2 linked regions of the Homo sapiens genome follow. The protein of the gene in region 2 interacts with the protein of the main gene of each other region in a pairwise test. Each region holds a gene or a part of one and is shown on either strand. Other genes may lie near its edges.

Region 1 (15,486 bases), on a different chromosome or scaffold from region 2:
CAGCCTCCTGAGTAGCTGGGATTACAGGTGCCCACCACCATGCCTGGCTAATTTTTGTATTTTTAGTAGAGACGGGGTTTCTCCATGTTGGCCAGGCTGGTCCCAAACTCCTGACCTCAAGGGTTCTCTTGCCTCGGCCTCTCAAAGTGCTGGAATTAACAGGCATGAGCCATGGGCCCGGCTCCTTACACCCACTCCACCAGCACTCTTTCTGCTCCCTGGCTTACTTTGTTTAAGCCACACTGTCTTCTTTCTGCCTCATTAACAAGTCAAGCCTCAGGCCTCTGTGTTGGCTGCTCCCTTTGCAGGGAGTACTAAGAGTAGTCTTTCCTGGCTACTCCGGTGAAAAGAGCTCCCTAATTACTCACTCACTAACCCATTGCCCTGCATTCTTCTTTTTTTTCCCTCTAATTTAGTTAAGCTGGTGGAGTGTGCCAGACAGGGAGGGAACCCTGGCTGCTGACCTAGCCACTCAGGAATGAGGTCTGTGCCCTGGTTCTGACTCAGAGGTGGGGAAGAAAAAGCTCCCCAGCTCAGCACGCGGTCTCCTCCCCCATGGTATCAAATGCCCTTAGACTCACTCTCATAGGGCTACTACTGGGTGCCTGGAGTGGAGGTCAGAGAGCAGGGACATTGTATTTCGGCAGAGACACAGTCCTGTTTGTGTGTGTGTGTAATGAGAGCTGGTTAATCTGATCAAACAGTCAAACGTGTGGGAAATTTTATCCCACTGTGGACGGCAGAGATTTCTGACCATGGATCTGAGGGTTTTTTCCTCCTTTCCTCACTGAACTGAATGTTGCTTAAAGTATCTCTAGCGTCTGAAAGCCCTCTGGGTAGGGTTGTTTATCATAGGGTCCACAAATTCCCTGGAATTAAATGCAAAAATGTGGGTTTTGCATATTATTGTGGGCAGTGGTGCACTATTCTAGGGATTTTAACAGATTCTGAAAGGATGCCAGGACCCAGAAAAATAAGAATGACTAGCTTAGGTTTTTCAGGCAGGTGATTGTTTTGTTTTTGTTTTTGACACAGGGTGTCGCTCTGTCACCCATGCTGAATACAGTGGCATGATCAGGGCTCACTGCAACCTTGACCTCCTGAGTTCAGGTGACCCTCCCACCTCAGCCTCTCGAGTAGCTGGGACTACAGGCACATACCACCATGCCCAGCTAATTTTTTATTTTTTTGTAAAGACAGAGTCTTACTATGTTGCCCAGGATGGTCTTGAACTCCTGGGCTCAAGTGATTTTCCCACCTCAGCCTCCCAAAGTGCTGGGATTACAGGTGTGAGCCAGTGCGTCCTGACCATGCAGATGATTTAGAGATGCTGGAATTGGCCTTTGGAGAGAATTGGCTTTAGAAGAGAGTCCAGGGCAACAAGTCCAGGACAGACAGAGAGAAGGTGAACGTGTATATGGTGGCCTGCTAGGGGCGGGTGCTCTGGAGGGGATACTGGGGCTACTGCCAACTCTGCCCTACTGAACACAGGCTACTCTGCCTGTTAGATGCTGCCTATGCCAGCCTGGCATTATGTCACTTGTCTAGCTAGTCAGAGGAGTTGCCTACCTGGGCACTTGCAGCTCACAGAGTCACAAAGTTTAGGGTGAAAAGTTAACAGTTTAGAACCCCCACGTCCAAGGCTACGGGAGCCCACCTCTTGCATCAGCGTGACCTGGATGTGAGACACGAAGTCAAAGGAAATCACTTTGGAACTTTAAGGCTTAATGAATGCCCTGTTGGATTTTCGATTTGCATGGGGCCTGTAGCCCCTCTGTTTTGGCTAATTTCTCCCATTTCAAATGGTTGTATTTACGCAATGCCTATACCTCCATTGTATCTAGGAAGTGACTTAACTTGCTTTTGATTTTACAGGCTCATAGGGGAAGGGACTTGCCTTGTCTCAGATGGGAGTTTGGACTTGGACTTTTGGGTTAATGCTGGAATTAGCTAAGACTTTGGGGGGACTGTTGGAAAGGCATGATTGTGTTTTGAAATGTGAGGACATGAGATTTGGGAGGGGTTAGTGGTGAAATGATATGGTTTGGCTGTTTCCTCACCCAAATCTCATCTTGAGTCGTAGGTCCCATAATCCCCACATGTGATGGAAGGGACCCAGTGGGAGATAATTGAATCATGGGGCAGTTTCCACCATGCTATCCTTGTGATAGTAAGTTCTCACGAAATCTGATGGTTTTATGAGGGGCTTCCCCTTTTGCTCGGCTCTCATTCTTCTCTCTCCTGACACCTCATGAGGAAGGACATGTTTGCTTCCCCTTCTGCCATGATTATAGGTTTCCTGAGGTCTCCCCAGCCCTGCAGAACTGTGAGTTAATTAAACCTCTCTCCTTTATAAATGAGAATGGACTAATACACTCCAGTACAAGAGATTCAGGTGAAAGAGCTTCCGAAGGATGGGTAGCATAGGGTTAGGAGGAGAAAGATAACGAAAGAACCCAGTTTGAGAGGAAGGACCGCTAATATGCTTGCTTCCATTCCATACAACCTTTCCATTGCTACAAAGATTCCCTAGAGATCACTGCCAAGCTCCTCCCATCTCTGCCAAACTCTTCACCCTTCCCTTTCCAGAAGCCTAATCTATACATTCCTTGTCCACCAGACCCTGTCATTGCATCCCTGATACTTGCTTGCCTTGATTTATTTATTATTTTTTTTTAGAGACTGGGTCTCACTCTATTGCCTAGGCTGGAGTACAATGGTGCAGTCAAGGCTCACTGCAGTCTCAGCCTGCTGGGCTCAAGCAATCCTTCCACCTCAGCCCTCCAAGTAGCTGGAACCACAGGCACATGCCACCGTGCCCAGCTAACTTTTCTATTTTTTATAGAGATGGGGTCTTGTGACATTGCCCAGGCTGGTCTTGAACTCCTGGCCTCAAGCAATCCTCCTGCCACAGCCTCCCAAAGTTCTGGGATTACAGGCATGAGCTACTGTGCTTGGCCTATTTTACTTTATTTGTATCTTTTTTAGAGACAAGGTCTCACTCTGCCATCCATGCTGGAGTGCAATGGTGCAATCACAGCTCACTGCAGCCTCAATTTCCTGGGCTCAAGTGATCCTCCCACCTCAGCCTCCCAAGTAGCTGGGACCACAGGCAAATACCACCATGCCTGCTAATTTTTTATTTTTGTAGAGATGGGATTTTGATATGTTGCCCAGGCTGGTCTGGCCTTGCTTTATAAGTGCTGCCAAGTATCTGTCTTCCCTGGGAAGATGTGAGCTTCCTGAAGAAATGAACTCAACAGGGCTCACACTCAGCCCTTCCTTCCACAGCCCTAGTCCTCTTTTCAGCATCACCCCTAACCTAGAGGAAGGAGGGAGGCTGGGGGAGGACAAGGACAGGAAGCAGCTCTACTGGAGTGGCCCCAGCGCTTACACTGGGAAGTGTGGAGTCAGTTCCTGCCCTCACTATTGGGAGTTTGAGCACAGGAGGTCAATCTGGGAGAGCCCCAGACACCACATGCCTCCTACGAGGAGGGCTAAGCTTGTGGAGACTCTCAGCCTAAAGGTGTCTCAGTCCCACAGCCTTTCCTAGTTCAGGCCCCATCATCTCCTACTCTCAAGTGAGTGTAAGAACTTCCTCTCCAGACTGTGAGTCCTCTGCCTCTCTTCCTGCCGATTATCCTCCTCCAAAGCTGCCATCCTTCTGAAATGAAGTCACAGTACAGATGAAACACTTTCAACGACTCCTTCTTACTTTCTAAATAAATGCTTTTAGCATGACATGAATGTCAATTCAACATTTTTTTTTTTGAGACAGGGTCATGCTCTGGCTCAGCCTCCCGAGTAGCTGGGACTACAGGCACATGCCGTCATGCCAGGCTAATTTTTGTAATTTTTATAGAAAAAAGGTCTTGACATGTTGCCCAGGCTGTCTTGAACTCCTGGGCTCAAGTGATCCACCCGCCTCGGCCTCCCTAAGTGCTGGGATTACAGGGGTGAGCCACTGTCCCTGGCCAATTTAACATCTTTTAAGTCTCATTTCCTAAACAAACCTAAGCTTCAGCCACACCAGATCTCTTTAACAAACACATTCATGTCTTTAGGACTGTGCTTATGCCATTCTCTTGTGGGAATGCCCTTCATCCACTCTTCTCTCTTAGACACTCATCCTTTAAGGCCCAGCTCCAATCTGGCTTCCACTGCAGACCAGCCCTAGCCACGCCAGGCAGAAATGGCACCTCCTGGCTACATACTCCATGGTGCATTGTTCTCGTACCATGAATAAAATGGAATGCATGCTTGTGACACTCTTACTTGATGCCAGCCACTCTGTGGCACATGAATCTCATTTATGACCTATCTCATATCCCTCACCCACCATGTAAGGGACTCAACTGCTCTTTTTTTTTTTTTTTGAGATGGAGTCTCACTCTGTAGCCCAGGCTGGAGTGCAGTAACATGATCTCGGCTCACTGCAACCTCCGCCTCCTGGGTTCAAGCGATTCTCCTGCCTCAGCCTCCCGAGTAGTTGGGACTACAGGCATGCTCTGCCACGCCTGGCTAATTTTTGTATTTTTAGTAGATACGGGGTTTCACCATATTGGCCGGGCTGTCTCGAACTCCTGACCTTAAGCAATCTGCCTGCCTCGGCCTCCCAGAGTGCTAGGATTACAGGCGTGAGCCACCACGCCCAGTCCTTTTTTTTGTTTTGTTTTTTTGAGAAGGAGTCTCACTCTGTCTCTCAGGCAGAAAAGCAGTGGTGCCATCTTGGCTCACTGCAGCCTACGCCTCCCGGGTTCAGGTGATTCTTGTGCCTCAGCCTCCCGAGCAGCTGGGACTACAAGCGCGCACCACCACACCTGGCTAATTATTTTTTGTATTTTGGGTAGAGATGGGGTTTCACCATGTTGGCCAGGCTGGTCTCAAACTCCTGACCTCAAGTGATCTGTCCGCTTCAGCCTCCCAAAGTGCTGAAATTACAGGCTTGAGCCACTGTGCCCGGTCTGCCCCCATTTTTTGAAGAGGAAACAGGTTCAGGGAGGCCAAATGCTTGTCCAAGGTCACAGAGCTAGGAAGGGTCAGAGCTGGGATTTGAATTCCTAGGTGTTGGACTCTGCAGTCCATGCCCTTTCACACCTGTTACAGGTGCATCACTGCCACAGCACTGTGGCTAGTGTTGTAAGAGGCTTCTGGCCGGGCACGGTGGCTCATGCCTGTAATCCCAGCACTTTGGGAGGCTGGAGCAGGCAGATTACCTGAGTTCGGGAGTTCGAGACCAACCTGACCAACATGGAGAAACCCCATCTCTATTAAAAATACAAAATTAGCTGGGTGTGGTGGCACATGCCTGTAATCCCAGCTACTAGGGAGGCTGAGGCAGGAGAATCGCTTGAACCTGGGAGGCGGAGGTTGTGGTGAGCTGAGATCACACCATTGTACTCCAGCCTGGGCAACAAGAGCGAAACTCCATCTCAAAAAAAAAAAAAAAAAAAAGGCTTCTGACCTATGGGGGTTTTTAGTATTTTCAGGGCAGGGTCTGTCTCCTTTGTCATGGCATCCCCTCTGCCTGGGTCAGAGCCAGGCACACAGTACTCAGTAGATGTTTGTGGAATTGAAGGCTGGAAGTTTGGTGAGCAACCCCACTTACCTATCAACAGCTATGGCAAAAAGGGCTGGTTGGGGAGTCTTCAAGAGCAGAAGAGTGGCCCAGCGGGTAGGAAACAGAGGTGAAGGCCTGTCCCTACCCTCTGCCCTGTCTCTCCCAGCATTTCTGAGTTAGGGTTGGCCTTGGCAGCGTTCAGGGAGTCTTGAAGCCAGAGCTGAAAAGCTCTTGGAGCTCTTTGGCTGAGGTGTGAAGGAAGCATGGTCTACCTGCCCCTACCTGACTTCTTCCTGCTCCTGGCCTTTAAGATGAGCTGTGATGTCAGGCAACAGGCTCATGAGGTGGTGCCTGCTCCCTTGAAAGGAACTGCCCTCCTCCTTTGAGTGCCCAGGGGAGACCCCGGCCCCCTCCTCTGGGCCCCTCCAGCCTCACCCTCTGTGCTGGCATCATCCACCAGTATGATCTCCTTGAGCAAGATGGCAGGGGTGGTGTGTAGGACGCTGTACACTGTTCGCAGCAGTGTGGACCAGGCTTCGTTGTGGAACACAATGATCACGCTGGTGGTGGCCAGTGGGGGGCAGCGCCGGAACTTCTGGTCCACACACCTGGAAGTATGAAAGTACGGACAAAGTTCTCCTGGTCCCTGGGAGTACCAGGTGTGGGGAGGGCCCCATCCAGAGACTCCCCCAGACCATCCTCCACTCCTCTGAACCACAGCCTACATTCTCTATAGCAGGTGGGAACAGCTGTTCCCTGTTCCTGTCTTCCCCGGTATCTGCCACCCACCCTGAGCCTTTGCACAGGTTCTAGCCAAACCACTCCAAAATCCATCCCCACAGAGCTGGCTCAGTGCCCCAGCTGTGATGCTGAGGCTCCTCCACCCCCTTCCTTCATCTGCTATCTGCTCTCAGGCTAGGAGTTCCCAGGGCTGGCTCTCTTCCTCCGTAATATGTGAACTGCATAAAATGTAATCCAATCCAGAGGTCCCAGAGGGGTAGGTAATAAAGGCCAAATTTGACATCTGAGAAAAGTGACTATGATTTCCATACTCAATGAGAAGAAAAGGCTCTTCCCTTTACAGCGTACAGTTCCTCTCTAATCCATTTTCTCATTAACTCCCTGTGATTTGACACCACTATCACAGTCAATTTCCTGCAACCTTTCTTCCAACTTCATCCACTCCAGCTACTCTGTGGCACTTGGCCATGCTGCTACCTTCTTGACACTCTATCTCAGGGTTGGGGTGGGAATGTGTGAATCCTGGATCTCAAGGAATCATGTGACCTCACACCCTTTCCTTGACCTCCTCTGCTGGTCAGAGGATTTCTTGGGGACCCTCCAGAGAGATTCCCTGTCTTCCTCCTCTGGCTGCTGTCACACCCAGTGCTCTTCTCTCTGTCTGTTTTTTTTGAGACAGAGTCTTGCTCTGTCACTCAGGCTGGAGTGCAGTGGTATGATCTTAGCTCCCTGCAACCTCCACCTCCCAGGTTCAAGCGATTCTTGTCCTTCAGCCTTCTGAGTAGCTGGGATTACAGGCACCCACTACCATGCCGGGCTAATTTTTTTGTATTTTTAGTAGAGACAGGCTTTCACCATGTTGGCCAGGCTGGTCTTGAACTCCTGGCCTCAAGAGATCCACCCACCTCAGCCTTCCATAGTGCTGGGATTATAGGCATGAGCCACTGTGCCTGGCCCCAGTGCCCTTCTCTGCTGAGGAATTCCTGATAGCTTCAAGTGGCCCCTTGTTCTAGGGCTATCATACTTGGCTCAAGTCTCAAGAACCTCAGGTTCACAGCCCTAAAGACTCACGAAATCTGGGGATGAGGGCTGCCATTTGAGAAAAGGCCAAATAGGGTATAACACTTGACCTGGAAAAGACAAAGGCTAAGTGGGGAAGACACACTGTCTTTAACTTGAGGATCATGGGAATGCAGCCATGGGGGCGTTAGAGGGAGGGGGCTGCCACTCAAAGATCTAAGTGAGATCTCATTGTGCAAGATTGAGGCTATAAACAACTTCAGATAAAGGTTGGAATCAATTCCGGCCTTGTGGGCCTTCACTGGAGGAAACCAGGTGTGAGGATATTCCTAACCACCAGGGTTGCTGTTAAGAAATGCCCACCCCCCCCCCAAACAGCTCAGCATTAGAGTCCCACAGTCTCTGGAGCAGGCCTCAGTAGAGGAGAAAGCTACTGAAACCACAGCTTGGTATCAGGTCTCCCCAGTCACCCCGTGCCAGGTCCTGGTGCCAGGCTGAGTTCCTTCTTCCACATCATCTCACTTTCATAATTGCATTTCACTCTCACAGGTCTCCCTGGGCCTCTGGCCTGACCATAATACCCTTGAATCACAACCCCTGGGATCAGCACAGTTGTTCTGGGAAAGAAGTGAGGCATAGAGGAGATCCTTGCCCATATTATAAAATTCCCTTCAACTCTTTCTCTGGCCCTTGATCTATGGCCCTGGCCATACTAGCCATGCCTTTAGCAAAGCCCTGGTCTCCCCACAAGGACTCTGGGTGCTACTTACTCAGGTGGTCGGGTGTCTGGCCCCAGGGACCTCTGCAGGGAGATCCGGTCGCTGGCAAAGGCATTGAAACAGTGCTTCTTATAGCCTTCTTCCTTTTCCTGGGTCTCCAGGGGGGTCCACTTGCTCTTCTGAAATGCTTTTCCATCTGCCCCAGGGGCATTGGGGTCCTGTGGTGGCCGTTCCCAGAAGGGCTTCAGTTCAGCTGGGGTATAGAACCCAGGGAGGCAGGACTGGTTTATGGAGAACAGAGTCTGCTGGGCTTCTGGAGCCCTGATTTGGAGCTTGGGCATTGAATCTCTAAGGTTGTTCATGGCCTCCAGCATGAGGTCCAGGACGTGATCCTTCCGGCTCACCAGGGACTTCAGCCACGGCTTCTCTGTGGCCTCCTCTCTGCTGCTCACATCCCTATGCAGGAGGAAGAGGAAGAGCACAAAGGCGCAGCCCACCATGGCCAGGCGCAGGGGCATGTGGCGTCTGCGGAGGAGCCTCATCCTCCAGAACCAAGGGGCACCCCAGCTGCGTCAGCTCTGAGTCCTGAGCCCAACCCTGGAGATAGCTTGATACGTTGTGGTGGCCACAAGCTGGGGCCTCAGCCTGAGAAAGGAGGGGACAAGAGAGAGAAGTGAGCCAACACAGGGTAAGGAGGGAGTCGGGTGCTTGGGGTTCGAGGCCAGGCTCTGTTGCTGAGTGGTGGCATCACCTTATTGGCCACAACTTTCCCATATCTACATTTCCTTCATCCATAAAATGAGGAGACCGGAGGCAGTGTTTCTTTCCTGCCCTAAGATCCTAATATGCATGGATCTAGAGTCACTGGAACACTGAAACACTACATGAGATTTAATCATTAAACTCATGAGATTTAATCATTATGGCTTTGGGAAACAACTTGGTATTATCAAGAAAAATTTGAAATGAACACAGCCTGAGCCAGCAATTCCACTCCTCATTTTATATCCCAGACAAACTCTGGTAGATGCAAACCAAGAGGTATGTACAAGAACATTTAAGCCAACACTGACTTAAATGGCAACAAACTGGTAAAACCTTTAAGTCCACTAGCAGAATGAATAAATAAAGTGCAAAATACCCATACCGTGCAGTGCTCTACAGTGATGACCAAGAATGAACCACTTCTCCATGCAACAATGTGGATGTGTTGTTGGGTGAAAAAAGCAAGTGACAAAAGGATACATACAGTATGATTCCACTTATAGAAAATGTAAAAACATGCTAAAATTAAACAATATCTTGTTCTTGAATACAAATATGTGATAAAGCTATAAAGAAAGCTAAAGAAGACTAGCCTGGCCAACATGGTGAAACCCTGTCTCTACTAAAAATACAAAAATTAGCTGGGCGTGGTAGCGCATGCCTGTAATCCCAGCTACTTGGGAGGCTGAGGCAGGAGAGTCACTTGAACCCGGGAGGCAGAGGTTGCAGTAGGCTAGGATCATGCCACTGCACTCCAGCCTGGGCAACAGAGCAAGACTCCGTCTCCCCACGAAAAAAAGAAAGCTAAAGAAATGACATAACCAGTTTCTGAAGATGAAGAAAACGGTACAGGATTAGAGATGGTTAATGGGGGACTTCAAAGTGTTTTTTTCTCAAAGTGGATGGCGGCTGCTGGTGGACTGTAATTCTTTAGACCCTATACGTATTTTATAAATATTTCTTGGCCAAGCATGGTGTAATCCCAGCACTTTGGGAGGCTGAGGTGGGAGGATCGCTTGGGCCCAGGAGTTCAAGACCAGTCTGCTCAACGTATTGAGAGCCCATCTCAATAAAAAATTTTAAAAATTAGCGAGGCGTAGTGGTGCACACCTGTAGTCCTAGCTGCCTGGGAGGCTGAAGCAGGAGGACTGCTGGAGCCCAGGAGGTTAAGGCTGCAGTGAGCTATAATCGCACCATTGCTCTTCAGCATGGGCGAGAGAGAGATTCTGTCTTTAAAAATAAATAAATAAAAGTTATCTGTAATCTACTCCTATTTAATAAAAAAGAATTTAACAGAAACCTAAGATTTCATGACAAGACATTCCCGGCAGGGCTGGGCATGGGCGTTCACCAGGCTCCACCCCCAGGCATGTGGATCCATGCCCTAGAGGATGAATGCTTGCAGAACTTTCTGTGCAGAGTTCTGGACACATAAGCTCACTGGTTAAGCACTAGACATCAATGGCAAGGGACCTGGGCACAAATTCCAGTTCTTCCTCTTCTAGTAGTAGCACCTACCTCCTAGGGTTGTTACAAGGATTATGCTCCTTCCCCACAAAATTCATGGACAAAGCTTAGCAGTCTCTGCACATGGTAAGTTCCCACAAAGTGTTAGTTTTGATCATTAGCAGCTGTGTGACCCTTGGGTAATTTACTTAATCCCTCTAAGCCTCAATTTCCTCATCTATAAAGTGGGGGCAACTAATACCTAACTCACAGGGTTGTGGGGAGGATTAAATCAGATAATGTAGGTAAAATGTTTGGCAGAGCACCTGTCACACTAAGCCCTCAATAAATGGTATCAACTATTTCTATTATTATGATAAATCCCTGCTTCACTTCCCAGCAGTTATCCTCAAGCACCTGGCCCTTGGCCAAAGCCACGTTCATTACTCCCTGCATGTTTTGCTTAAAAATAACTCTGGTTGTACTATTTAATGCTATTGTTTAAACGCACAAGCTCCTGCCTGTGGAGAGGCCTGGTGTCTGAGACCTTGGGAGTATGTGGCCATCGTGATCTCAAGTGGGGAGGTGGATTCATTCTGGACTGGGGTACAAATGTGGCTTCTTTTATAACATCAGATTCAGCAGCACCGTCAAAAATCAAACAAAAGAAATCTCTTTGAGCATCTATTTTGTATTAACTATTGTCTAGGAGATAGGAGAGATTTGTTTATTCCACCAGTATTTACTGAATAACTGCCTCTACCAGGTACTCTGCAAGAGGCGGGGGACACAGAGAAGTGCAAGGCCAGCCCTCAAGGATCCTACAGTCAATTGGGGGCATCAGATTTTAAACAGAGATTACCCTGTGAGAAGCAGAATCAAAGAGGTACCCTTGAGTGCTGAAGGAGCCGGCATGCAGGAAACTCAGCAAATGGGGGAGGGCAACATCTGTGAAGAAATCTCACGGGGGCAGAAATGGGCCGAACACTAACTGGCGAGTAGGAGTCAGCGAGGCGAGGTGAGCACATTTCAGGCAGAAGGCACAGTACCTGCAATGGTCTAGAGGTGGGAGACAGAAGAGCCAGTCACAGAACTGTAAGCAGTCTGGTATGGCAGGAGTAGCAGAAATTGGGCCTACAGAGGTGGCTGAAACCAAGTCCTAAGGGCCTTGTTCATCATGCTGAGGAGCATTTGCCCTTGACCCAAGGCATGGGGAGTAATAAAGCGTTAAGCTGGGAGCCCAGCATTACAGGAAGAGCAATATGACAGCGGTGGAGGGTATCTTGGAAAGGGACCTGCTTGGCAGCTGGATGACCCATTCGGAGTCTGACCCAGGAGAGTTAGTAGCAGTGTGGATGGAAGAGGGAGGGTATGGTGCCTAGGAAGACCCCCTTGGGTGATGGGGTGGGACAGTTTACCCCGTCTGGTACACAGAGGGACACAAAGGCTCAATTCCTTTCCCCAAGGGATTTGAAAATCTTATTGGAGAACGAGAACTGATAGCACTGACCAGGTGAAGGAAGCACCTGACCAGGGGAGATTCAGGAGCAGGAAAAGGACCTTTCACTGAATACTCTTTTGTACTTTGAACCCTGACTATATTACTTATTCAAAAATGAATAAAATTAAAGCAGAATAGCACAGACAGTAAGAGCTAAGCTGAGAGAGGTAGAGTTCCCTGTGGGTTTGAGGAAGGCTTCGGGGAGGAAATGGGGATTCAGTGTAGCAGGAGTTTCTTGTCACAGAGGTTGAGCTATGCTGGGGCTAGCACAGGGGGATTTGCTTGAGCTAGACACCTCATCAGTTCTGGAACTGTCCCGGCTAAGCCCACACAGAGGCCTGCAGAATGGGGGAGTGTTTGCCATGACAGCTTTGAACCGTCCTGCAGGCTTCGTCTTCCCTGCTACTTTCCATCTACCTTCCCACTCCAGCAAGAAAGAGGGAGCACAGTTAGAAACAAAGGCATGGTAAGATTGTAGTTACTAACTGTTGCCAGTGCTCAAGACTCACCCCCTCCAGGAAGGCCTCCTGACTGATTCACTCAGAATCACCTAGGTTACTCCAACTCTTTCATCCTGGCACTGCCTCGTGGTCCCTCACAGCAGGGCCTGTTTTTGCTTCTTTTATTTTCCCTGGAGAAAGAAATATAGGGTTAAATTGAGCTCTTCCTAGGCATCTAATCTCTCAATCCCATCTGGCTGCCTGAAGCTTTCTCTCTCAAACCTACAGTTCCTCAAGGTACTAACCACATCCTGAACCGAAATGAGACACCTGGGATTAGCCTTGGTGGTGAGGCACTCATTCTCTAGTTTGTTTGCTTAGCATGAGGGCAACAGGAAGAGTCCCTTAGAAGAGACACAGAATCTAGTGCAAGCCACAGGACTTTGGGGTTAAGGATTTCTGCTCCCTGTGTAGGAGATGATTCCCAGAAGTATGGTTAGCAAGGTCGTGGAGGTCGCCCCTCCACCAGCCTTGGAGAAAGAATAGCTGCTATTCTTTGCTATTGTTTCAAGTACAAAGCTTCACGAGATCCGCCCCTGGTGTCTTGTATATCTCCCTCACCTTTGGGCTCCCACACCTGGCCTCCTGCTTTCCTGGCAAGTGTGCCCGCAGCCCCCATCCACTCATTTCCCTCTCGCTGTGGCTCAGCACTTCTTCCCAAGTCTTTTTCCTCCAGCTACCCTTGGGCCTGCAACTCTTTGGACCATCCTTGGCTTTGATCCCGAGATGATGCCAGAAATCCTCTCTGAAAAGCCTGCCTAGATTGAACAAATGGGATTTGCTTCCCTGGCCCCACCGGCCAGAACACAAACTTACCTTCTCTCACTGGTGTAAGGAACTGAGGCTTTACCCAGCCCAGCTTGTATCAAACTGCTGATTACAATCCACTGTGATATTATAAAATAAATTCAGAGTGTTGCAAATTAGCATTCAAAAATTTCTTTAAAAGACCAGTTAGGACCAGGCACAGTGGCTCACACCTGAAATCCCAGCACTTTGGGAGGCCATGGTGGGCAGATCACTTTAGGCCAGGAGTTCAAGACCAACCTGGCCAACATGGTGAAACCCCTTCTCTACTAAAAATACAAAAATTAGCCAGGCATGGTGGCATGTGCCTGTAATCCCAACTACTCAGGAGACAGAGGCAGGAGAGTTGATTGAACCTAGGAGCTGGAGGTTGCAGTAAGCAGAAATAGCACCACCGTACTCCAGCCTGGGTGACAGAGCAAGACTCTGTCTCAAAAAAAAAAAAAAAAAAAAGACCAATTAGCAAAAAGAGACCAGTTAGCTGGGTGTGGTGGCATAGGCCTGTAATCTCAGCTACTTGAGAGGCTGATGCTGGAGGATTGCTTGAGCCCAGGAGGTTGAGGCTGTAGTTAGTTATGATCATGCCACTGCACTACAACCTAGGCAATAGAGCGAGACCCTGTCTCAAAAAATAAAAATAAATAAATTTTAAAAACCCAGAATAGAATGAAAAGAAAATATCAAAGTGCATCATGTATCACATGTAACACAGGCAAGTATTCGTTTTTTCTTTCTTTCTTTTTTTTTGGAGACAGGGTCTCATTCTGTTCCTTAAGCTGGAGTGCAGTGGTGCAATCTCAGCTCACTGCAGCCTTGACCTCCTGGGCTCAAAGGATCCTCCTACCTCAGCCTCTGGAGTAGCTGGGACCATAGGTGTGTGTCATCAAGACCGGCTAATTTTTATTTTTTGGTAGAGATGGGGGTCTCACTATGCTGCCCAGGCTGGTCTTCAACTCCTAGGCCGAAGCAATCCTCCTGCCTTGACCTCCCAAAGTGCTGGGATTACAGGTGTGAGCCATCATGTCCAGCCTGAAAAGTAAACTTTTATTTTAATGTTTGTTTCAGTCTATTAAAGATACACACTGCCTGATACAAAATTAAAATGATAAATTTGTTATTCAAAATTCATACAACTAAAGACAAAAGAAGTTTAAATGATTCCATTTTCAAATGATAGTTTTTATGGTTTGCAGAATTTATGCTTGTAATGTGATTAAATTATAAAACTGCCCTAAGATTTTTGGGATGCCCTGTCACATATACACAGGTACCGGGTCTCGCTATAAAGTATATTTCTCACTTTGGTCAAGTCATAGAAGTTTGAAAGCCAGTGACACAGTCCAAACCCCACAGTTTATATTCTAGCCCCCCTCCAAAAAGCCTTCTCAGATCTCCCAGCAGAATTCATCTCTTCCCTGCTTTGCCCCCTTAGCACCCGATTTTTATTTGTACTCCAGTCTCATCACAGCCCACCCTGTGTTTATGGACTCCTGGACCAGAGAGGCCATGCCATTTCCAGCTTTTTATCACCTACAAAGTCTAGCACAAGTTTTACATATAGCAGGTGTTCCATAAACTTTTTTTTTTTCTCTTGGAGACAGGGTCTCACTCTGTCACCCAGGCTGAAGTGTAGTGGCATGAACACAGCTTTCTGCAGCCTCGACCTCCCAGGCTCAAACAATCCTCCTATCTCAGCCTCCTGAGTAGCTGGGAATACAGAGGTGCGTGCCATCAGGCCTGGCTAGTTCCACAAACTCTTGTTAAATGAGATGAGGTTGGAAGGGTTAAATGTGGAGCACTGGCTTCACTAAATGATGTTCTGAATGAACTTACTGCAAGAAATACTTGACTTACAGGATATTCTGCCATTACACATTAGCTTGCTGTTTTGACTAGGTCTGTCTGTGGGTCTAACACCCTCATTTTATCAACGGCGAGGCCAGAATGGTTAGGTGACTTCTCTAGCAACACACAGCTAGTGGCTCCCAGGAGTAGAACCCGATCTCTCAACTCCTAGACCACTACTCTGTTTACCACACTCATACCCGTGGAGGTTGAGTAGGGAATTTGGGGACCAGGCCTGTCCTCCCTGAGCCTCCCCGACTCCACCCTTTGATCCCCTTCCTGGCATTTGCCTTCCTCCCACTCAAGGATACAAATGCTTTAAAGATGTGGAGACTGGAAGTCCCAGGCAGCCTTAGCTTTTGTGAATGTCAGAGTCAGCCATCCAGAACATGCCCTAGCTTTCCAGGTGGCCTCTTTGTAACAATGTTTCTTTCTATTTATCAGGTGAGCTGGTCACCTCCTTAGACGTGGCAGCAGGAAGCAAGCAGTCCTTACCACAGCGATATTTGCTCAAGTTACTCAGAGGAGGGCTCAATTACAAGTTTCTTTGGAAAGTGATAACTGTCACCACTCTTACCACGG
Region 2 (15,486 bases):
GACACGTTTTATCGTAAAGTCCTTCCAGGTTTTCTCTGTCCCAGTAGAAATCAGGAGTAATCAGGAAGTCTGAACTCAAGTTTATACGGTGCCTTTAAAAAGGAAAATTATAACTTTTTATTTATCTTGAATTAAAAATCATTGTTTCTATTGTATTTAATATTTACATAGTGCTTTATGAAAACTTTTTTTTTTTTGGTAAGAGAGAGGGTCTTGCTATGTTACCCGGGATGGAGTGCAGTGGTGTGATCACAACTCACTGCAAACTGAACTCCTGGGCTCAAGCTGTTCTCCTGCCTCAGCCTCCCATGTAGCTGGAACTACAGGCATGTGGCATTGCATGTGGCTGAAAACATTTGTTAATGCTGACCTTTGCAAAATACTGCCAACAAACATGTAAATAAAATTTACAAATGAGTTTCAAACTTCTGAACCAAATTAATTCAATCTTTAATACCAACATTATTTATGAAGTACACAGAAAAAAACTCATTTTGTTTTCAATTTTTTTTTTTTTTTTGAGACAGAGTCACTCTTGTCACCCAGGCTGGAGTACAATGGCATGATCTCAGCTCACTGCAACCTCTGCCTCCCAGATTTAAGCAATTCTCCTGCCTCAGCCTCCCAAGTAGCTGGGATTACAGGTGCCTACCATCACACCTGGCTAATTTTTTGTATTTTTAGTAAAGGGTTTTACCAAGTTGGCCAGGCTGGTCTCGAACTCCTGACCTCACGTGATCTGCCTACCTCAGCCTCCCAAAGTGCTGGGATTACAGGTGTGAGCCACCATTCCCAGCCTAAACTTTTTTTATTAAAAATTTTAGGGCCAGGCATGGTGGTTCATGCCTGTAATCCCAGCACTTTGGAAGGCCAAGGCGGGCAGATTGCTCGAGTCTGTGAGTTCAAGACCAACCTGGACAGCACAGCGAAACCCTATCTCTACAAAAAATACAAGAACTAGCCAGGTGTGGTGGTGTATGCCTGTAGTCCCAGCTACTTGGGAGGCTGAGGTGGGAGGATCATGTGAACCTCGGAGGCAGAGGCTGCAGTGAGCCAAGACTGTGACACTGTACTCCAGCCTAGGCAACATAGTGAGACCCCATCTCAAATAAAAAAAAAATTTAATATGTCCACACTTTTTTGTTTTTTATTTAAAAAATTTTTTTAGAGATAATGTCTTCATATGTCACCCAGTTTGGGGTGCAGTGACACAATCATAGCTTACCGCAGCCTCAAACTCCTGGGCTCAAGTGATCTTCCTGCCTCAGCCTCCTGAGCAGATCAAGATATAAACAGGTAAAAATTGATAAATCTTAACTCTTATTCTTATCTGTATCTTTCCCTATCAGTAATCCCTTCTAGTTTCCGCTGTATCCTTCCAGTGTTTATGCAAACACTAGACAAGCAAGCATAAACATACACACTCTCTCTCTTAATTTCTACATTTTAATATAAGAAGTCTGTGCTTACTTTTTTTTCTGAGACAGAGTTTTGTTCTTGTTGCCCAGGCTGGAGTGTATTGGCGCGATCTTGGCTCACCACAACCTCCACCTCTTGGGTTCAAGCAATTCTCCTGCCTCAGCCTCCCGAGTAGCTAGGATTACAGGCATGTGCCACCACGCCCGGCTAATTTTGTATTTTTAGTAAAGATGGGGTTTCTCCATGTTGGTCAGGCTGGTCTTGAACTCCTGACCTCAGATGATCCACTGGCCTCGGCCTCCCAAAGTGTTGGGATTACAGATGTGAGCCACCGTGCCCAGCCTTTTTCTTTTTTGAGACAGAATCTTGCTCTGTCGCCCAGGCTGGAGTGCAGTGGCATGATCCTGGCTCCACTGCAACCTTCGCCTCCTGGGTTCAACCAATTCTCATGCCTCAGCCTCCCAAGAAGCTGGGATTACAGGCGCACACCACCATTCCTGGCTAATTTTTGTATTTTTGGTAGAGATGGGGTTTCATCATGTTAGCCAGGCTGGTCTCGAGCTCCCAGCCTCAAGCAATCCACCTGTCTCAGCCTCCCAAAGTGCTGGCATTACAGGTGTGAGCCACCGTGCCTGGCCTTACACTTAGATGTTTAACTAAATAAAAATCTAAGTTATGAAAGTACACATAAACTGATGTGGTGGCTCACACCTGTAATCCCAGCACTTTGGGAGGCCTAGGGAGGAGGATTGCTTGAGCAAGGGTTTGAGACCCTGTCTCTACAAATTATTTTTAAAATTAGCTGGGTGTGGTGGAGCACTCCTGTGGTCCCAGCTACCCAGGAGGGTGAGGCAGGAGGAATCCCTGAGCCCAGGAGATCAAGGCTTTGGTGAGCTATGATCATGCCACTGCACTCTAGTCTGGGTGACAAGCAAGACCCTGTTTAAAAAAAAAAAAAAAAAAAGTAACACATACATACCTGTTCACGATTAAAAAAAAAAGGAAAATATCCTAGAGAAGGATTCAGAAAAATGGTAGGCTCTCTTATGCTACCACACTACTTAAATCCTTTATTCTCCCCAAGGACAGGCCTGTAGAGACACTTTGCTGTGTACTTCCAGATCTTTCTGTATTCATACATGCATGTGTGTGCAAGCAAACACATGTACATGTGTATGCATATAAAGATAAACATGAATATTTTTATTTGCTTACACAAATGGGATCATACCCTATATAAATTTAGATTTAGTTTTTTAATCTAATATTATCTGCCATGTTTATTTTCACAGATGTATCACATTCCTTATATTAACAAATAAGCATTTTTATTGTACAGGTAAGGAAACAGGATAGTAAAAGTAAGCCTTTATAGAAACTATTCACAAACCTACGTATATTTAGTCCTAACTATTCAGTTTGGATATTATAATTCACTACATCAATTTCTGCTTGCATGACCAAGAGAACAGGAGAGAAGAATCTCTCTACCCTACTTCTCAGAGAATTTGAGGCTTCAGATATGCTGCAGGATGCTCCTGATGGATGGGTTTTTAAGTTTTGTTGGTACCCTGAACTATAGGTCCTGAGCTATGAGAGATACACAGACAATGAAACACTGTATCACTTCTCTCCAGGCAGAGCATCTAAGGAGAATATGGAAAAACAAGTCTTAGGTGAACATTTGCAGTGAGCTCTGGTAACTCATTCCACATGCTAGAAGGGATAAACTGGACAATGCTGCCTGTGAGAAAAACACCAACATCCGGGATGTTTCATTCCGTAAATCCTGGGACAACTACAAGAATAATAAAAGCTGAAAACCTTTCCAGATACTTATTTAAAATGATTCATCAGTTTTTAGACATAGTTATTCCCATTTTAACATCTCGAGGCATCTTAAAATTAATGGTGTCTGACAGGTGGCACTTGAGACTTACTTGTCTTTGCCTTAAATAATTTATTTTCTTATGCTTTCCTTTTCATATATGCCCAAGAGGGAATGTGATATAATTTATATCCAGCTAAGATTAAAAGATATTTCAGTAAGTGTAAAATTTTAATCCTCTGATAAAAAAAGTATTGTCATAGTTTAACTGGCAGCAGTTTTTCTCTCCAGTGGCATCTTGGTGTCTCAGATTCAAAGAAACTTTTCTGTAGCAATTAAGCCTATTTAGCATTATGATGCAGTGATATATTTTTACAGAGAATTCCCATTAACCAAATTCAGGAATATGTCTTTCTACCTTCAAAGAACACCTACTGTGCTCCTTAATGTGGGTTTAATGTAGATGAATCGTGATCTCTTTTGCACATGCGTGATTTCTTTCAGTACAGTCTTAACACAGCCCAACTACTTCTAATGGGTAAGAGTTCTCCCTGCTTATAATCAATGAAATGAAAACAGCTACAGTTCCCATAAACGTGTAAATGTTTGCTCTTCACCACAGAACTATGGGAATGTTTTCTTGAGATTGTTAAATATATGAAATATTTTATTTAGAGAGAAAACTTTTACCTTAGAGCAAAGAGTTCACCGATTTTCTGCATAACTTCTTCATGAGATAGTTTCACTTTCTTCCCAGCTTTTAAAGCCTAGTTGAGAGGGAATCGGAAAAACCAAAAAACCATGTATCTCTCTTTCTAATAAGCATTAGGTCAACAGGGCAAAATCTGAAGTGGCATAATTTGGATCCTATGTAAATATTTTTTAGGATGGCTGTCTCCCAGATTAATGTCTTAACTCACCTTGAAATTTCATAATTTTATTAGGTAGAAATTGTATATTCTCTTTTTTCATTTCCCTTCTCATCAGCATTTTCAATGATATATACATTCCTAATCTCTTAGTAGAAAAGCAGGGCCTCCTTTCCGAAGTATAATTAGATTACTCTTTCACAATAAAGACACAGTTAATTACAATATGATGATTTTTAATGTATACTGAAATTTCAATATAACTTTATATGTATTTTTCATACCACTATTTTTCTCATAATTTAGCAAAACACTTTCTTAAATCAGGAAAAGTGGTCATAATTTCCATTCTCAGAGAGAAACATTTCACTTTTTTCTTTAATTCAGTTACATTAAAAATACTGCAACTGACGGGCATGGTGGCTCGTGGCCTGTAATGCTAGAACTTTGGGAGGCCGAGGCAGGAGGATCGCTTGAGCCCAGGAGTTCAAGACCAGCCTGGGCAACATGGCCAGACCCCATTTCAATTATATTAATATTAAAAAAAAAATACTGCACCAACAGAGGAAACAATTTGAAGTTTTAAAAAGTAAAAAGTAATCAATATGAAGTTTCTTAATTTGTCATTTTATATGTAACTGGGAGTTCTTAAGTTTACTGTAGTTTTCTTATTGTTTGTAATAATGTTGTTGTACTCCTAAACAATCGGCCCTCTATAAGTTCTGCAACTGCAGATTCAACCAACTGCAAATTGACAGTATTTTGAGAAAAAAGAATGGTTGCATCTGTACCGAACATGTACAAACTGTTTTTTCTTGTTATTATTTCCTAAATAATACAGTATAACAACTATTTACATAGTATTTACATTATATTAGGTATTTTAGGTAATCTAGAGATGGTTGAAAGTATACATGAGGATATGCATAGGTTATATGCAAATATATACCATTTTATATCAGGGATTTGGACACTGGTAGATTCTGGTATCCAGTGGGGTCTTGGAACAAATCTCCCATGGATACTGATGGATAGCTATATATTGTTATATTGGGAAATTCATATTTTTTACATATAAAAATCAATCCTTGAATAAGCATAAAATTGATATAATTACCTCAGGAATTGACTGAATAGATTCAATAAATTTATCCAGTGATGCTTCCCAAATTGCCAGTTTTACTGGGAAAAAAATTAATAATGGAACATTTCTTTATCATCATATTCACATGTATATAAAATACATAATTGCACAGCATCTTCACTACTATTTCAGTAATAGTTTAAGAAAAAGTACTAAAACCTTGAAAATATAATTTAAGAATAGTTAATTATCATAAAGGACAGAATTAAAGTGGATAGAGGAAACTGAATCGCTTTCCATGCCCTATTGGAAGACCAAAGCTACATTTAGTAGAACTCTTGATTTTCTAGTATTACATCTTGGAAACTGAGGAGGGTAGGGTACACCTTGATACCATGGGTAGCTCTGCAGATAGGGCGCGACTAAGACTTTCCTGGCCTCCCCTTCACTCCTCAGGACTAAGAGTAAACCTCAGAAATCTCCGAAGCCCCTCAGAGTGGGATGGACAGGACGCTGCAGCAGCCACCTAAGGTAGACTGCTGGCAAAAGAAATTCTTAAAGAACTTGTATAGTTTTATTCGGGATGTGGATCTTTCAGAACAAACTTATAGCCACTGTGACTCTGGGTCCCATTCCTATGGAACACTAGAGTATGTTTTTCTACACTGGGACCTGTGCCCAGTCACACAAGGCTGGGCTTCTCTGTCTGGATTAGAGACTATCTAAGAATAACAATCGCATAGAGAGAAGAGAAAAAAACAAAGGCTAATATAATCATCATCTAAAAAATACTTTTGGAGAGGTTAAGCTTTATTAATACAATTAATAAGGAATGAGTAACTTCAGCACAGTACTATCTTTTATACTAGATATTTTTTCTGATGGAGGGAAAAAAAGGAAAAGGAATGCTAAGGCTTTGTTGAGTATTCTGAAAATATACCAAAATCGTGACTATTTAAACTTCCCTCAGTGAAATGACAACTGTAGTACCCTATCCCATAAGCAGTAGTAACTTACCAGAAAGGCATAGAGCATTGGAGAAAGCAAACTTCTCTAGAATGGCATCATCTAAATCCAGCTCTGAATTTAACTTGATTTCCCCCCTGTGAAGTTTTGACTGTCCCCTGTGAAAAGCAAAAAGATAATACCTTCTAAATCTTAAAAAGCACTTTAACTTTTCCTTTGAAAAAGACACCATATCATCTTTCTGGAGGTCATTTTGACAATTTGTATCAAGAGTGTTACAAATGTTCTCATATCCTTTGGTCCAGGTAATTCCCTTTCTAGGAGTTTATCCTAAGGAAATAATCTAAGATGCAAAGAAAAATTTGTATACAAGAAAACTTTTTTTTTTTTTTTTGAGACAGTCTCACTCTGCCGCCCAGGCTAGAGTGCAGTGGTGCGATCTCAGCTCACTGCAACCTCAGTCTCCTAGGTTCAAGCGATTCTCCTGCCTCAGCCTCCCTAGTAGCTGGGATTACAGGCATGCGTAACCACACCCAGCTAATTTTTTTTGTATTTTTAATAGAGATAGAGTTTCACCATGTTGGCCAGGCTGGTCTTGAATTCCTGACCTCAAATGATCCACCCACCTCGGCCTCCCAAAGTGGTGCGACTACAGGTGCGAGCCACCTTGCCCAGCTGAAAACTTTTAAAAAAATGGTCAGTGTTGGCTGGGCACGGTGGCTCACGCCTGTAACCCCAGCACTCCGGGAGGCCGAGGCAGGTGGATCACGAGGTCAGGAGATTGAGACCATCCTGGCTAACATGGTGAAACCCCGTCTCTACTCAAAACACAAAATAAAATTAGCCGGGTGTGGTGGCGGGCGCCTGTAGTCCCAGCTACTCGGGAGGCTGAGGCAGGAGAATGGAGTGAACCCGGGAGGCGGAGCTTGCAGTAAGCCGAAATCACGCCACTGCACTCCAGCCTGGGAGACTGAGCAAGACTCTGTCTCCAAAAAAAAAAAAAAGGTCAGTGTTTAAGAGTAAAAAATTAGGAAATAAACCAAATGTTCAGTAGGGGTTGGCTCAGTAATAGTCACTCCACACAAGAAAAACTTAAAAGTGTGTTTTGGAAGGATAGTTAATAAAAAGGAGAACGTTCACAGTAAATTTCTATGTGAAAAAATGCTGCATATAAAACTATATATGGAGTGTAATCTAAAATCACACTGACATGATGGGGTTGGGGAGGGAGGCAAGGAAGTTGTGAAAAATGAGTATGTGACTGTGGAGAATCCTAGACAGGGGACAGGGGAAGAGCGGAATGTGTGAATATAAACATCACAAGCAAATGGAAAAAAGACAGGGTAAACCTTCACAAAAGATGTCAGACAAGAAGTGACGGCCAAAGGGAGGGGGACAAGGGGCCTGATGGAGGGCGGCATCTGCTATGACAGCCTCAGATGGAGGAAGGAAAGCAAAGACAGCAGTCACAAGAGGTCTTTTTTTTTGAGACGGAGTCTTGCTCTGTCACCCAGACTGGAGTGTAGTGGCGTGATCTTCGCTCACTGCAACCTCCGCCTCCTGGGTTCCAGCGATTCTCCTGCCTCAGCCTCCTGAGTAGCTGGGATTACAGGAGTGCACCACCACATCCAGCTAATTTTTATATTTGTAGTACAGACAGGGCTTCACCATGTTGGCCAGGCTGGTCTTGAACTCCTGACCTCAAGTGATCTGCCCGCCTTGGCCTCTCAAAGTGTTGGGATTACAGGCATGAGCCACTGTGCTTGGTCACAAGATGCTTTATGAGTAAACTGGGCCCATGCCACAGAGCTGAGCAGATCCCTGGAATCATGGCAGAACTCACATAATAACCATGTAGGTGGCAGCCAGGACAGTCTTTCTGACGAAACAAAATAACTGACTCTGGGATCCTAAGCACTGAGGATTTTACTCCTCACAGACTGTACAGTAACGTGTGTGTGTGTGTGTGGATAAGCGTACACACACACACACACAAGGGTCTAGCAGTAGTTGGATATGGAAGTATTTGGTTGGTGCAAAAGTAATCGCGGTTTTTGCCATTTTAATGTAAACCTAATAGAACACAGAAAGGGGATTCACAGGAGCTGTATCTGCAGGCCAAGGGCTGAGTAACTACTAAAGATAATAAAACTACAGGCTGCTCATTTGCTGTCTCTCTCAGGTTTATATCCTTACCTCTGACTGCAGCCACCACTGGGCTCAGGCTGACTCACAGTCAGGTGCCCTTTGGCAAGACAGGATTCAATAAATCTCATCGGAAAGCCAGTTAGCTGCAATTATAGGGTTTTCCCCAGGATTAAATGAAATAATACATGGAAGGCACTTACTTAGAAAACCGTGACTGGCCCTATTGGTGGTGAGCGCTGATTACTCAGCTCTTATCCCCATCTGGTCTTTCTATAGCTAGTCTCTGTCTCTCTTCCAAGTCTTCCCAAAGCTCTGCTTTTAACGCTTTTTTTTTTTTTTTGAGACAGAGTCTCACTCTGTTGCACAGGCTGGAGTGCAGTGGTGCGATCTCAGGTCATGGCAACCTCTGCCTCCCAGGTTCAAGCAATTCTCTGCCTCCGCCTCCGCCTCCCAAGTAGCTGGGATCACAGACACTCGCCACTATGCCCGGGTAATTTTTGTATTTTTAGTAGAGATGGGGTTTCGCCATGTTGGCCAAGCTGTCTTGAACTCCTGACTCAGTTGATCCTCCCACCCTGGCCTCCCAAAGTGCTGAGATTACAGGTGTGAGCCACCAAATCTGGCTAACACTACCTTTCTTAAGAACCTGCAAAGACTCATATTTCACTAGACAGGTAACTCCATGAGGAAAAAGACACTACCATCTTGTTCATACTGCCTCTGTCTCGGCCCTAACATCTCTTCATTTTTTCCCTCTGGCTGAGTCAGGAAAATCAGCTAGTCTGTTGCCTACCCATTTATCTTAGTGAAACTGGTACACCAGGTCCCACTTCTTCCAGCACCCACACTTCTACAAGTGGGTCTCTTAGATTGACCCCTCACTATACTTCCTTTTCATACCCCCACCCCCCAAAATCAATAGGAAAAAACTGGATTAAGAGAAAAATTTACTGGAATAATTTGATAGGTTCATTTGATAAATGCATACTATTTTATTGGATTAGGCTGATTAGAAACTTAACATTTCCATTTTGGGGCTATACTACTGACTTGTTTTAACTTGTGGATAGCCTGAGAAGTTCAAAAAATTATGTTTATCTTCTAATATTTATTATATGGTTTAGACTTTGTATTTGTACCAGTAATCTTTTTCCTCTTTTTTTTTGAGACGGAGTTTCACTCTTGTCACCCTGGCTGGAGTGCAATGGCGTGATCTCGGCTCACTGCAACCTCCGCCTCCCAGGTTCAAGCAATTCTCCTGTCTCAGCCTCCCGAGTAGCTGGGATTACAAGCACCCGCCACCATAACCAGCTAATTTTTGTATTTTTTAGTAGAGATGGGGTTTCACCATGTTGGCCAGGCTGGTCCTGAACTCCTGACCTCAGGTAATCCACCTGCCTCAGCCTCCCAAAGTGCTGGGATTACAGGTGTGAGCTACCACGCCTGGCCACTTTTTTCTTAAAAGTAAGTTTCCAGGCCAGGTCCAGTGGCTCACGCCTGTAATCCCAGCACTTTGAGAGGCTGAGGTGGGCGGATCACCAGGTCGAGATCCAGACCATCCTGGCCAACATGGTGAAACCCTGTCTCTACTAAAAATACAAAAAATTAGCTGGGCGTGGTGGTGCACACCTGTAGTCCCACTTACTCAGGAGGCTGAGGCAGGAGAATTGCTTGAACCCGGGAGGCAGAGGTTGCAGTGAGCCGAGATTGTGCCACTGCACTCCATCCTGGGCGACAGAGTGAGACTCCGTCTCAAAAAAAAAAAAAAAGTTTCCATATGCATAATAATTTGTCTCCTCTATTGCTTTACCTAATTTATTCCAAGTGCCCCTTTCATAAATTTGATGAAAAGTTGCTTACTCTATTTTTATGTAGTTAAGTTCTTCATTTTCCCAGTGTACCAGTGCGATTTCATAGGGCTGAATTTCATGTTTTTCTAGAACTTTCATCACATGCTTCATCTAGAAGAAAAGGAAGATTAATCTGAAATCATAACTGACTCCCTCAGTTCAAGTATGTTATGATTTTAATGCTTATAACAGTCTTCATTACACTTACAGGCATTATTTCTGTTGCATGTTTTTAAGGAAAAGGCAAATCAAATCCATTGTGATATTAAAGTAATCAGGATGACATGTTCATTTGTTTTTACATTTGGAAAACACAGATGAGAATGGAGAAGAAAATCAAGGTTATCATTATCCCACAACCCAAGGAAAATCACTAGTAATATTATAATTTGTATTCTTTAAATCTCTTTAATAATCCCAGCATTTTGGGAGGCAGAGGCGGGTGGATCCTTGAGCTCAAAAGTTCAAGACCAGCCTGGGCAACGTGGCAAAATCCTGTCTCTACAAAAAAATACAAAAATTATCTGGGTGTGGTGATGTACACCTGTAGTCCCAGCTACCTGAGAGGCTGGCTTGAGCCTGGGAGGTGGCGGTTGCAGTGAGCCAATGTCAGCCGGTGTGACAGAGCAAGACCCTATCTCAAAAAAATAAATAAATAAAAAATAAAAAGTAAAGCCCAACATACTAATAAAAAATTAAGCCACACAGGTGTGGGAGGTGATCATCTCTTTCTCTCTTCTGTACTGAAATCCTAATCCCCAGAGGCAACCATGATTAAACTTGGTGCATATCCTTCCAGACTTTTTATGTGTATATATGTACATATTTATGCTGCTTTTTATGTAAAATAGGATCATATTATGCACATGACATTTTCAACACTATTTTCCTTTACAGACGAACTGCAATTTATTTAACCAACCTAGGTGTGTCCTCCATGGGGAATTTTTTCTACTCTCCATTACAATGTTGCGATGTGCCACACTTGTGCAAAGGTCTTCATGGCTTTGTGGGAATACTTCTTTAGGAATTGCTAGATCAAAAGATATGTGGACTTACACAATATGTATATATGTAACAGACAGGGTCTCACCTTGTCACCCAGGCTGGAGTGCAGTGATGCAATCATAGCTCATTGCAGCCTCAAACTCCTGGGTTCGAGCGATCCCCCTGCCTTAGCCTCCCAAGTAGCTGGGACTACAGGTACACACTACCACACCTGGCTAACTTCTAAAAACTTTTTGTAGAGATGGGATCTCACTGTGTTGTTCAGGCTGGTCTGGAACTCCTGAGCTTAAGTGATCCTCCCACCCCAGACTCCCAAAGTGATACGATTACAGGTATGAGTTACCACACCTGGCCCACACTTATAATATTGCTAGCCTGCTCTCCAAAGTAGTTTTTCCAAATGTAGAATCTCAACATTTATGAAACTACTCTTAAGAAATGGGGTTTATCAGCCTTTTACATCTTTGCAACTTCAAATAGCCAACTTGTATTTTCTTAAATTTATTGGTCATTTATATTTTCTTTTCTCTAAGTTCCCTTCCCGACCACCTACTGTGTGTGTTTCCTTTTCGTAAAATTGGGATTGTATAAAGCATGTTTTTTAACCAGTTCTGAGATTATATTGGTTATATTTTGTAACCCGCTTTTTTTTTTTTTTGAAGACAAGAGTATGCCTCTGTCTCCCAGGCTGGAGTGCAATGGTCTGACCTTGGCTCACTGCAACCTCTGCCTCCAAGGTTTAAGCGATTCTTGTGCCTCAGCTACCCGAGTAGCTGGGATTACAGGTGTGCACCACCACGCCCAGCTAATTTTTGTATTTTTAGTAGACATGGGGTTCACCATGTTGGCCAGGCTGGTCTCGAACTCCTGGCCTCAAGATACCTGCCGGCCTTGGTCTCCCAAAGTGCTGGGATTACAGGCGTGAGCCACCATGCCTGGCCGTATAATCTGCTCTTTTAATGTAACTGTATTATATATATAGGCAATCTCCCAGAAATAGATATTTTTTTACATGATTTCTAAGGGGATCTATAGTATATCTGTAGTATATGGATGATTTAACAAACTATTATTGTGTATTTTGGTAATTTCTAATTTTTGCCATTATAAATATTGCTCTGATGAACATTTTTGTACAAAAATCATCACGAATAGTTATGATTATTTCCTTTGGATAAATTTCTAGGTGTAAAATTACTGGGTTAAATATAAAGCTTTAATGTAGATTACCAATTTGCCTCTAAAATGGTTGTATTAAACAAATCTTGATTTGGATCTTGAAAAAATTATTTCCCATGAGTAGTAAGTTCTAGACAACTTGACTTAAAAGAACACTCAATGCAACCAGCTTCCAATTAACTGCATACATTTTGTATAGTACAACATGCAAAGTCTACAGTACTTCTGTCTGCAGTATAGTTAGGATGGTTCTGATTCTCCACAAATTAGTGTGTGTCTAGAGAAAGGAAAAAGCAGGAAATCTTAACCCAAAATACAATATATTTTGGAAGATGAAACTGATAAGTATCATGTAATGCAGAGCAAATAAGTTGTGCATAATCTATTAATTTCCCTTCTAATGTTTCAGTATGTGCTAATTAACAATTCATTCTCACAAAACTAAATTTTTATATTTTCACATTTTTATTTACACTTACAGTTTTGTCTTTCACATTCCAAAACACAGCAGCTCCTTCCCTGATTTAAAAAAATAAAAGAAACAACTAAGATACAGATGGAATACATTCTTTAGGGTCGTATATAAAACCATGTAACTTCTAGAATGTATACAGGATGCGATTTTTCAAAATATGATGGTACTTACTAATTTGATATTATGGTCCTTAGGTGAACTTCCTACAATAAGAGCTAAAATAAAATTCTTGATAAAACCTGACCTCCTCAAAATTTATGATTTCTCACATGGTTTGCCAAACAAATAGCCATTATTGTAATACTATATAACTTCACGTATGTAGACTCTTTCATACCTGGTTCAATTCTGATCCACAGAAATCAGAATAAGGAAATTTTTTGAGACCTTGTCTTAGCTCTCATTAGGCAGACTCTACTATGTGCAAGGAATAAAGGGCTATGCCTGGATTTTTGTGGAATAAAGAGATGGTGGTTAATTTAAGCATCAGATGGTTAAAGGCCTCTATGGAATAATGCTCCCCACGCTCACAGTGCTTGGAACAGAACTACAGTGACACCACAGGAGGCCCTCTGAATCCGATTATGGCTTTAACATTATTTAGGGTCTAAAACTACGAATGCATTTGTTTTGATTTCTCAAGTTTGACGTGTTGAAGCTGTTTCAGGTAGTAAATAAAAACAGGAGCTATAGCTCAGGGTCAGTGCACTGGAGGAAGGAAAGGAGGAAATAAAAGAAAGGTAAAAATATTAATGGCTCCACGTTATTCTTGAAACATTTCTAAAGTACTTAGTATATGTGTGGGTCCATGCTTAGTATTTGTGATAGAAACATAAGTATGATTTCATTCCTATCCTCAATCTAGAAAAGACTGGGACTGACACTTAGACCACCAATTACAATAGTGTGTGATCAGTGCTACAAGAGTATGCAGAGTATACCATGAGATGTACACCAGAGGGACCCCTTTGCTAAAGGACTAGCAGAGGCAGCCAAATGAGAAAACAAGAGGAGACAACATAGCAGAGGGGACACACAGGCTCAGAGAGGAGGTGGGACGGAGCAGAGCAGCATCTCAGAATAAACAGCCAGTAGCTGCGTGGCTGCAGATGTGGTCAAGCAGTGGGCAAGCAGGATAAAGAGGCAAGCAGGGGACAATCCAGAAGGGAACTTTATGCAGTGATAGAGAATTTGTTCATAGTCCGTGGAAATTTAGGCAGGAGAGTGTAGTGGTCAGAAATGGCCACTGAAGAATGACCCTGCTTACAATAGACAAACAGACTGGTGGTGGGTGAGCAGGCAGGCAGGGAGACAATAAGCTGTTACAATAGGCAGGGATAAGGTTTCAGGATACGGATTTGAGAGGTATTTCAAGCCACAGCCACAGTATCAGTTCAGAGAATCCCTTCCAGGCAGAAGAGAGGTCTGGTGAACTGCATATTCCTCCAACCAGAGGAATGCACTGTGCTGTGCAATGTGGTACTCAGAGGCCACATGTGGCTATTGAGTGCTTGAAACATGCCTGGTGCAAACTGAGATGCGCTGTAAGTGTACAATACACAGCAAAATTCAAAGACTTAGTATGACAAGTGAAAAAATATCATTATTAATTACATGTTGAAATGATAATATTTTAGATATGCTGGGTTGAATAAAATACATTGTTAAATTAATTTCATGTTAATATGTTAAGAAACATATTTGTGTTGTTCAAAATTAATTTTATCTTTTTAAAAATATTTAAAATGTGGTTACTGGAAAATGTATCATTACATATGAGGCTTGCATTATATTTCTTTCTTTCTTTTTTTTTTTTTCTTTGAGGCAGAGTCTCACTCTGTCACTAGGCTGGAGTGCAATGGCACGATCTCAGCTGACCACAACCATCGCCTCCCGCATTCAAGTGAATCTCCTGCCTCAGCCTCCTGAGTAGCTGGGATTACAGGCACCCTCCACCATGTGCCTGGCTAATTTTTTGTATTTTTAGTAGAGACAGGGTTTCACCATGTTGGCCAGGCTGGTCTCAAACTCCTGACCTTGTGATCTGCCTGCCTCAGCCTCCCAAAGTGCTGGGATTACAGGCATAAGCCACCGTGCCCAGCCGAGGCTTGCACTGTATTTCTGCTAGACAGTGCTGATGTAGAGTCCCTCACAAATCTAAATTCCTCACTCGGAACAACAGGGATGCTATTACTCTACTTGAATTAAATGTTGGAATCTTGATTCTCTCTAAAGATGGGGTCAAAAGGAAGGTAGGCATTGAAAGGAAAAAAGAACTTCCACTTATCATCAACTATAAGGATTATGACCACAAGAACTTTACTCAACTTTGGATTCCTACAGATGGTCCATGTGTTTCTGTTCTGTCACGTATTAGTCTCATGACTATGGGTAACTCAATCCCTATGACCCTCAGTTTCCTCAGGTGCAAAATAGACCTTCATCGGTGTGCTGAGGATAAATGAGATTATTTCACACGGTTCTATCATGTTATCATTCCCAGGCAGCTACTGTGGAGTATTTAGTATTGAGTCGGCCTTTAGATAAAAGGAATAAGTGTGTATGTGAGTCTCCTAGTCTAAAACCTCTGGAGAGGTAAGCTAAAACTTTAAAGAGCTACCAAAGGGGAAGGGAGAAAAAAAAGAAAATGGCAAGAAGAG

The links.
Region 1: the proteins of RMND1 (region 2) and GALNT6 interact in binary tests that used the Homo sapiens proteins (3 or more experiments, as listed by UniProt).

The regions. Positions count from the first base shown.
Region 1 is NC_000012.12:51,371,200-51,386,685, forward strand, and holds part of GALNT6 (polypeptide N-acetylgalactosaminyltransferase 6), read right to left. Parts: intron 12,384-15,486; exon of another isoform or gene 12,262-12,383; intron 11,311-12,261; exon of another isoform or gene 11,114-11,310; intron 8,686-11,113; 5' UTR 8,583-8,685; coding exon 8,092-8,582; intron 6,169-8,091; coding exon 5,996-6,168; intron 1-5,995. UniProt on the Homo sapiens protein: Catalyzes the initial reaction in O-linked oligosaccharide biosynthesis, the transfer of an N-acetyl-D-galactosamine residue to a serine or threonine residue on the protein receptor. May participate in synthesis of oncofetal fibronectin.
Region 2 is NC_000006.12:151,417,308-151,432,793, forward strand, and holds part of RMND1 (required for meiotic nuclear division protein 1 homolog), read right to left. Parts: intron 12,871-15,486; coding exon 12,831-12,870; intron 10,276-12,830; coding exon 10,175-10,275; intron 6,325-10,174; coding exon 6,218-6,324; intron 5,299-6,217; coding exon 5,234-5,298; intron 4,015-5,233; coding exon 3,938-4,014; intron 93-3,937; coding exon 1-92. UniProt on the Homo sapiens protein: Required for mitochondrial translation, possibly by coordinating the assembly or maintenance of the mitochondrial ribosome.